Linked DNA regions of Homo sapiens: region 2 is linked to region 1. A link means that fine-mapping ties the variant in region 1 to the expression of a gene that starts in the linked region. Tissue or cell type: aorta. Region 1 holds a variant in brackets; the other region holds the start of a gene. All regions are shown on one strand. Distances are from middle to middle.

What was found. PIP is the estimated chance that this variant, and not a neighbour inherited with it, causes the effect.
Region 2: it holds the start of LGR6, and the variant in region 1 is fine-mapped to the expression of LGR6 in aorta (GTEx, PIP above 0.99).

What each region holds. Positions count from the first base shown.
Region 1 is chr1:202,222,221-202,224,720 of GRCh38, reverse strand. The region is part of intron 1 of LGR6 (leucine rich repeat containing G protein-coupled receptor 6); the gene reads right to left. Among named protein-coding and RNA genes, the nearest start is that of LGR6, 30 kb to the right of the region's middle. RefSeq lists a silencer at 446-740. The variant G/A (reference allele first, on the strand shown) is at 1,426.
Region 2 is chr1:202,192,596-202,195,203 of GRCh38, reverse strand. LGR6 (leucine rich repeat containing G protein-coupled receptor 6) reads right to left here and starts at 1,405. Exons shown (of 18, transcript NM_001017403.2): 1 at 1,003-1,405. The coding sequence starts at 1,214. RefSeq lists enhancers at 2,272-2,321, 2,016-2,608.

The sequences.
Region 1 (2,500 bases):
CCTGTCAGATCAGCCGAGGCAGCAAAAGATTCTCATAGGAGTGTGAACCCTACTGTGAACTGCGCATGCGAGGGGTCTAGGTTGCATGCTCCTTATGAGACTCTAACTAATGCCTGATGATCTGAGGTGGAACAGTTTCATCCCGAAACCATCCCCCACACTCCACCCCTGTCCGTGGAAAAAAATTATCTTCCATGAAACTGGTCCCTGGTGCCAAATAGGTTAGGGACCACTGTCTTAGTCCACCTGGAAGACATGACACCTTGGCACATCACAGAACTGGCACACCACTAGATTCCCAGGTGGGGTAAGGATCCCAGTCCCTCTGCGGATCCACAGCCTCAATCATCTTAAGCTCATATTATCTGACAGACCCTGTGGGTGGTTTCAGTGTCACTGTCCTCTTAGAGGCCCCGCACACAAAATAATCACAATAATTACCCTGGCATTTACTGCAGGTCCACTCTGTGTCAGACACCGGCTAATCTTTACCCAAACAACCTCCTTCCATTCTCACAATAACCCCAAATTAGCTTCCATCATTATCTCCATTTTACACTCAAGAAAACAGAGAGAAAGGAGCACTGAGCTTCGAAGTCAAAAGGCCCTGAGGTCACATCTCTCCTCTGCAGTTACCTATCAGACGTTGGGCCCTTGACCTCTGGGCCCCTAGTTGACCTCATCTATAAAAATAGGGCAGCACCAAGCTGGTAGGGTGCTTGTAAAGATTAAGTGAGCTAATGCTTACAGACTGCCTAATAAATAGTATGGACAAGGTACATATTTGCTTTTCTCCTCTTGCCTTTCCCTCGGGGTCCTGTGGGCAAGTGTCCCAGCCCCACAGGCCGGTGGGAGAGGGGCTGGTGCCTTTTCACAGGCCTGTGGGGCTGGGACACTTGCCCACAGGACACTGAGGGAAAGATGGAAGGAGGAAAGTAGTAGAGAGGAGTTGGTACCTTCCTCTGTGGGTCCTACCCTGTGTTGGCATCTTCTTCACAGTTTGTGCCTGGATGAGCAACAGTGTGTGAGACTGTGTGTGTGTGCCTGACACATTTGCATTCCATCCTACTTCAAACTCCTAATGCCTGATTCTCGTCTCTGCCTGCCCCTTCCCTGAGGGGGTACAGAGGTGGGCTCAGACCAGACCACCACAAGCTGGGCACTGCCCCCAAGCCTTCTTGAGGCTTTCTCCTTTCCCTAGACATGCACTGTTGCCCTCAAACCTCAGTGTCTGCATTTCCCCCCAAGAAATGCGTGTGCTTTCTGTGTGCCCAGAAAGGCAGGCTGGGAACAGCCTGGAGAGCGTGTGCTTGGGAGTCCTGTTCCAATCTATAAAAAGACTGTTTAGTCTCAAATGTTTTATCTTTGATAAAGCCTGGGCTCTGGACTCCATGTCCTCCAAGGAAGGAAGACATTCCGTGCAGG[G/A]TAGAACCAAGGAACTGGCATGCTGCACCCAGCGCTGCTTCTCATCTACCATTCCCTCCCTGCTCCCCTGCAGAACACCTCTGGGCTTGCCGGTCTAGAAATGGGATCCGCAGAAGCTGTAGGTGGTGTGCTGTGGCCATAGTTTCAGGTGGGAGAGAGGCAGAACCCAGAGAGTTTGTTGATGGATTTTTTTTTCCCCAGAGTTTCACTGTTGTCACCCAGGCTGGAGTACAGTGGTGTGATCTCGGCTCACTGCAACCTTCGCCTCCGGGGCTCAAGTGATTCTCCTGCCTCAGCCTCCTGAGTAGCTGGGATTATGGGCACCTGCCACCACGCCTGGCTATTTTTGTATTTTTAGTAGAAATGGGGTTCATGATGTTGGCCAGGCTGGTCTCGAACTCCTGACCTCAAGTGATCCTCCTGCCTTGGCCTCCCAAAGTGCTGGGATTACAGGAGAGAGCCACTGCGCCCAGCCTGTGGATGGATTTTAAGCCAGGGTTTGGTCCTCAGGATGTTTTCAGGCCCCACTAGTCTTGGATTGTGGCTGAAATGCGAAGGTGCAGGAGCACACTGGACAGTGTCAGGGGAACGTAGGGTGGCACCCACAGAAACCCAAGCGCAGAAGCTGGGCCAGATCGGACTCCTCCCCCTGGTGTCCCACCCCTGGCTCATTCTCAGTGAGGCAGGAGGCTCGAGGTGCCGAAAAAAAATGATTACCTCTAAATATTTACCCTGTGCATTTCTGGATGTGTCTCGACAGGAACGCAGCGGGAGTTCAAGGAGCACTCAGGGCGTGTGACTCAGGCCTCATCACTCAGCTGTCCCCCCAGGGGCCGGGCCGCAGAGCCTCTGATGTCCCTCCATGGCCCCCACCCCACCCACTCCCTCTGCCCCACCACCCTGACTAGCGGCCTCATTGTTCTCCCCTGCGGAGGAGGGGGCCTGAACCCCTCCACCCGCCCCCACATCCTGCCCCAAAACAACACAAAGCCCAGCTGCAGTGCTCAGTAAAGGGGGTGGGGTGGGGCAAGGAGGGTGAATTTCAACTGTTCAGGGGTGGAGGGAGCCCCATTCA
Region 2 (2,608 bases), 30 kb after region 1:
CCTAGCCCTCAGCAGAAGGCCCCACCAGGCTTTCCCACCTGCTCCCAGCTCCTCTGAGGAAGTTGATAGAGCCTGCAGAGCTGGGCTGGAGGAGGTTTCCTTGCCCCAGAGCGGGGCTGGGGGTGCAGGTGGGTGGCCTGGAATGTGCTCTCTCACCCTCCTCCTGCCCAGGTGGTGAGCAGCCAGAGCCCCCAGCCCTCCAGCTCTGAGGGGAAGCTCCCATGAGCCAGACAGACAGGACAGCTGCCCCCAGTAGGGTCCCCTTCACGCGCCATCTCACCCCAACTCAGACGCTAAAAATGGTTCTCTGGTTTTCAGCCTCGGCGCCTGCCCACAAATTAGTGTCTCCAACACAGCCTCTTGGGACATGACTTTAGGGAGGCCCCTGGGGGAGCCAGGAGGCCCCAGTGAAGGGAGATGGTGCTGGCAGAGTCCCTTTCTGAGGAGACAAGAGTGGATAAGGCCCCCCTCCCAGCTTCTAGGAAACCCGCCCCCCCCGCCCCCACGAAGGCCACCCAGCCTCAGTGTGACAGCCCTGTTGTCCTCACCATGGCAGAAGAACAGACATTATTTCCACCCTACTGGGGCACGCTCCCCTCACCTCCACCTCCAGTTCTGTCAGCTTTACCCTCAGCCACCATCCCGGGCACTGCTCTGCTAGAAGAGAATGCAGCAACAGGAGATGGAGCAGCCAGCCCCGCGCCCTCCCGCTCAGGGTCCAGAACCCACCTCGCCAAGCCTGGGCTCCCATAGTCAGCCCACAAGCACGGAGGCCAATGGGGAAGCCAAGTCAGGGAAGCCCGGTCTCCCTGCTCGCCTGGTATTTAGTCTCAGACTCTTCTCCCCTCCCCAGTCCCGCAACGGTCAACTTGGAAGGGGGCAAACCCTCTCCGGGATGCCCATGCCCCAGGGCACCAAGCAAGCAGGTGCCCTGCTGAGGCCGGGACTGGGCGCTAGCCAGCAGCCCGCAGGACCAGGCGGGGACAGGCGGGCAGTACTCACAGGTAAGCCGTCAGGGGGTCCAGGTCCCCCGGAACGGCGGACAGCCCGAGCTCAGAGCAGTCGGCAGACAGCATGATGCCGTCCTCCTGGCAGTGGCAGGGGGCCGGGCAGGCGGTGGGCCCCGGGCCGGGCTGGGGGGCGCCGCCGGCCCTCCGGGAAGCGCACAGCGCGGCGCAAAGCCATAGCGCCCGGAGCCCCGGCGGGCTGGGCATCTCGGCGGTCGGGCTACTGGGGCACCTGGCGGCCGGGCGCGGACGCACGGCGCGATGGCCGCAGCTGCTTCCTCCCGGTCCCGGCGGGCTGCACCGTCGGTGGGGACCGCCCCAGGGGCTCTATTGGGCGGCGGCGGCGGCGGTGGGAGCGCCGGGACGGTGCAGTCAGAGAGGGGCAGGCATTGTTGAGTGATCTTCGTTATTCAGTTTCACAGGCTGGGCTTGGCAAGGGAGGGAGACCCAGCCGGAGGAGGAGTCAAGGAAACTTTCTACACTGCGGCTCGCTCCTCTTCCCTCCTTCCTTCGGAGCTGGCAGGAATTTCATCCAGGAAAGAAAAAAAAAAAAGGAAGAAAGCAAAGAAACCCAAGCGAGCAAAGCTCAGCCCGTCAGAGACCTGCATTTGTTTGGATAGGGTGTCCCAGGGCCTTGGCCGCAGGGCTGGGGACCCTCTTGCCTTTGGGGACAGCCACGAGGTCACATGGGACCCAGAGGAGGTCTCTGAAAGAGGCCTTGGGGCTCCCATTGCCCCTCATGCCTCCACCACGTTTCACACTGCAGGAAACTGAGACCCAAGAGGCAAAATGATTTGTTCAAGGTGACACAGCTGATGGGACATCCCCAGAGCTGGAACTCGTCCACCCTCCCTGGCCTGTCTGCTAGGACAGGAGAGAGGGGAGTGAGGGGCTACCCTGGAAGAGGCCAGGCTGCGGAGGGTTCCACTGCAGGCTGGGATGACCCGACGGTGGGCAACCAGGAGCAGTCTCCTCACTGAGAGGCCGGGCCTTGACTCCAAAGAAACGGGTGTGGAGTTACACCCGCTGAGTGCACCCTGGGTGGAAATGCACTCCTGCAGCCTCTGTCAGGTTTACGGCCTGGGGACCACCTTGATCCCTGCTCCCAGGACCTCGGGAGTCTGAGGGACTGTGGGCAGCTCAGCTGGTTGTCAGAGCCCACCTCAAAGTAAGCGGATTGGTGCCACCTGGAGGCCGGGTGCTGCACCTGCAGCTCAGCCACCCTGAGGCTGGAATCCCACCAAGTGGCTGACCTGGGCCGGCCCCAGAGCCCTGGAGAGCAAAGGGCATGGTGGTTAAAACTGAGGTCAATCCCTGTTCTCTCCTTAGACCATAGTGAGCTGGCTGTGCTTCCTTCATGCAGCCTCTTGCTCTCTCTGGTCTCTCCCATGCTGAGCCAAGCCCCCGCGCAGAGCTAGAGCAGGCTGTGGGCCCCCCTCCTTCCTTTTTTTGCCCTATCTCCCCATGGTCCAGCCAGAGGGTATACTAGAAACCTGGGACCTCAGAGGCATCCAGGATTTCTTCCACCCTGTCTTTCCACATGCCAGGATCCTCTCATCAACACCTCTCCACTCTCCCAATAACCTCCCAGGGCTAGAGGG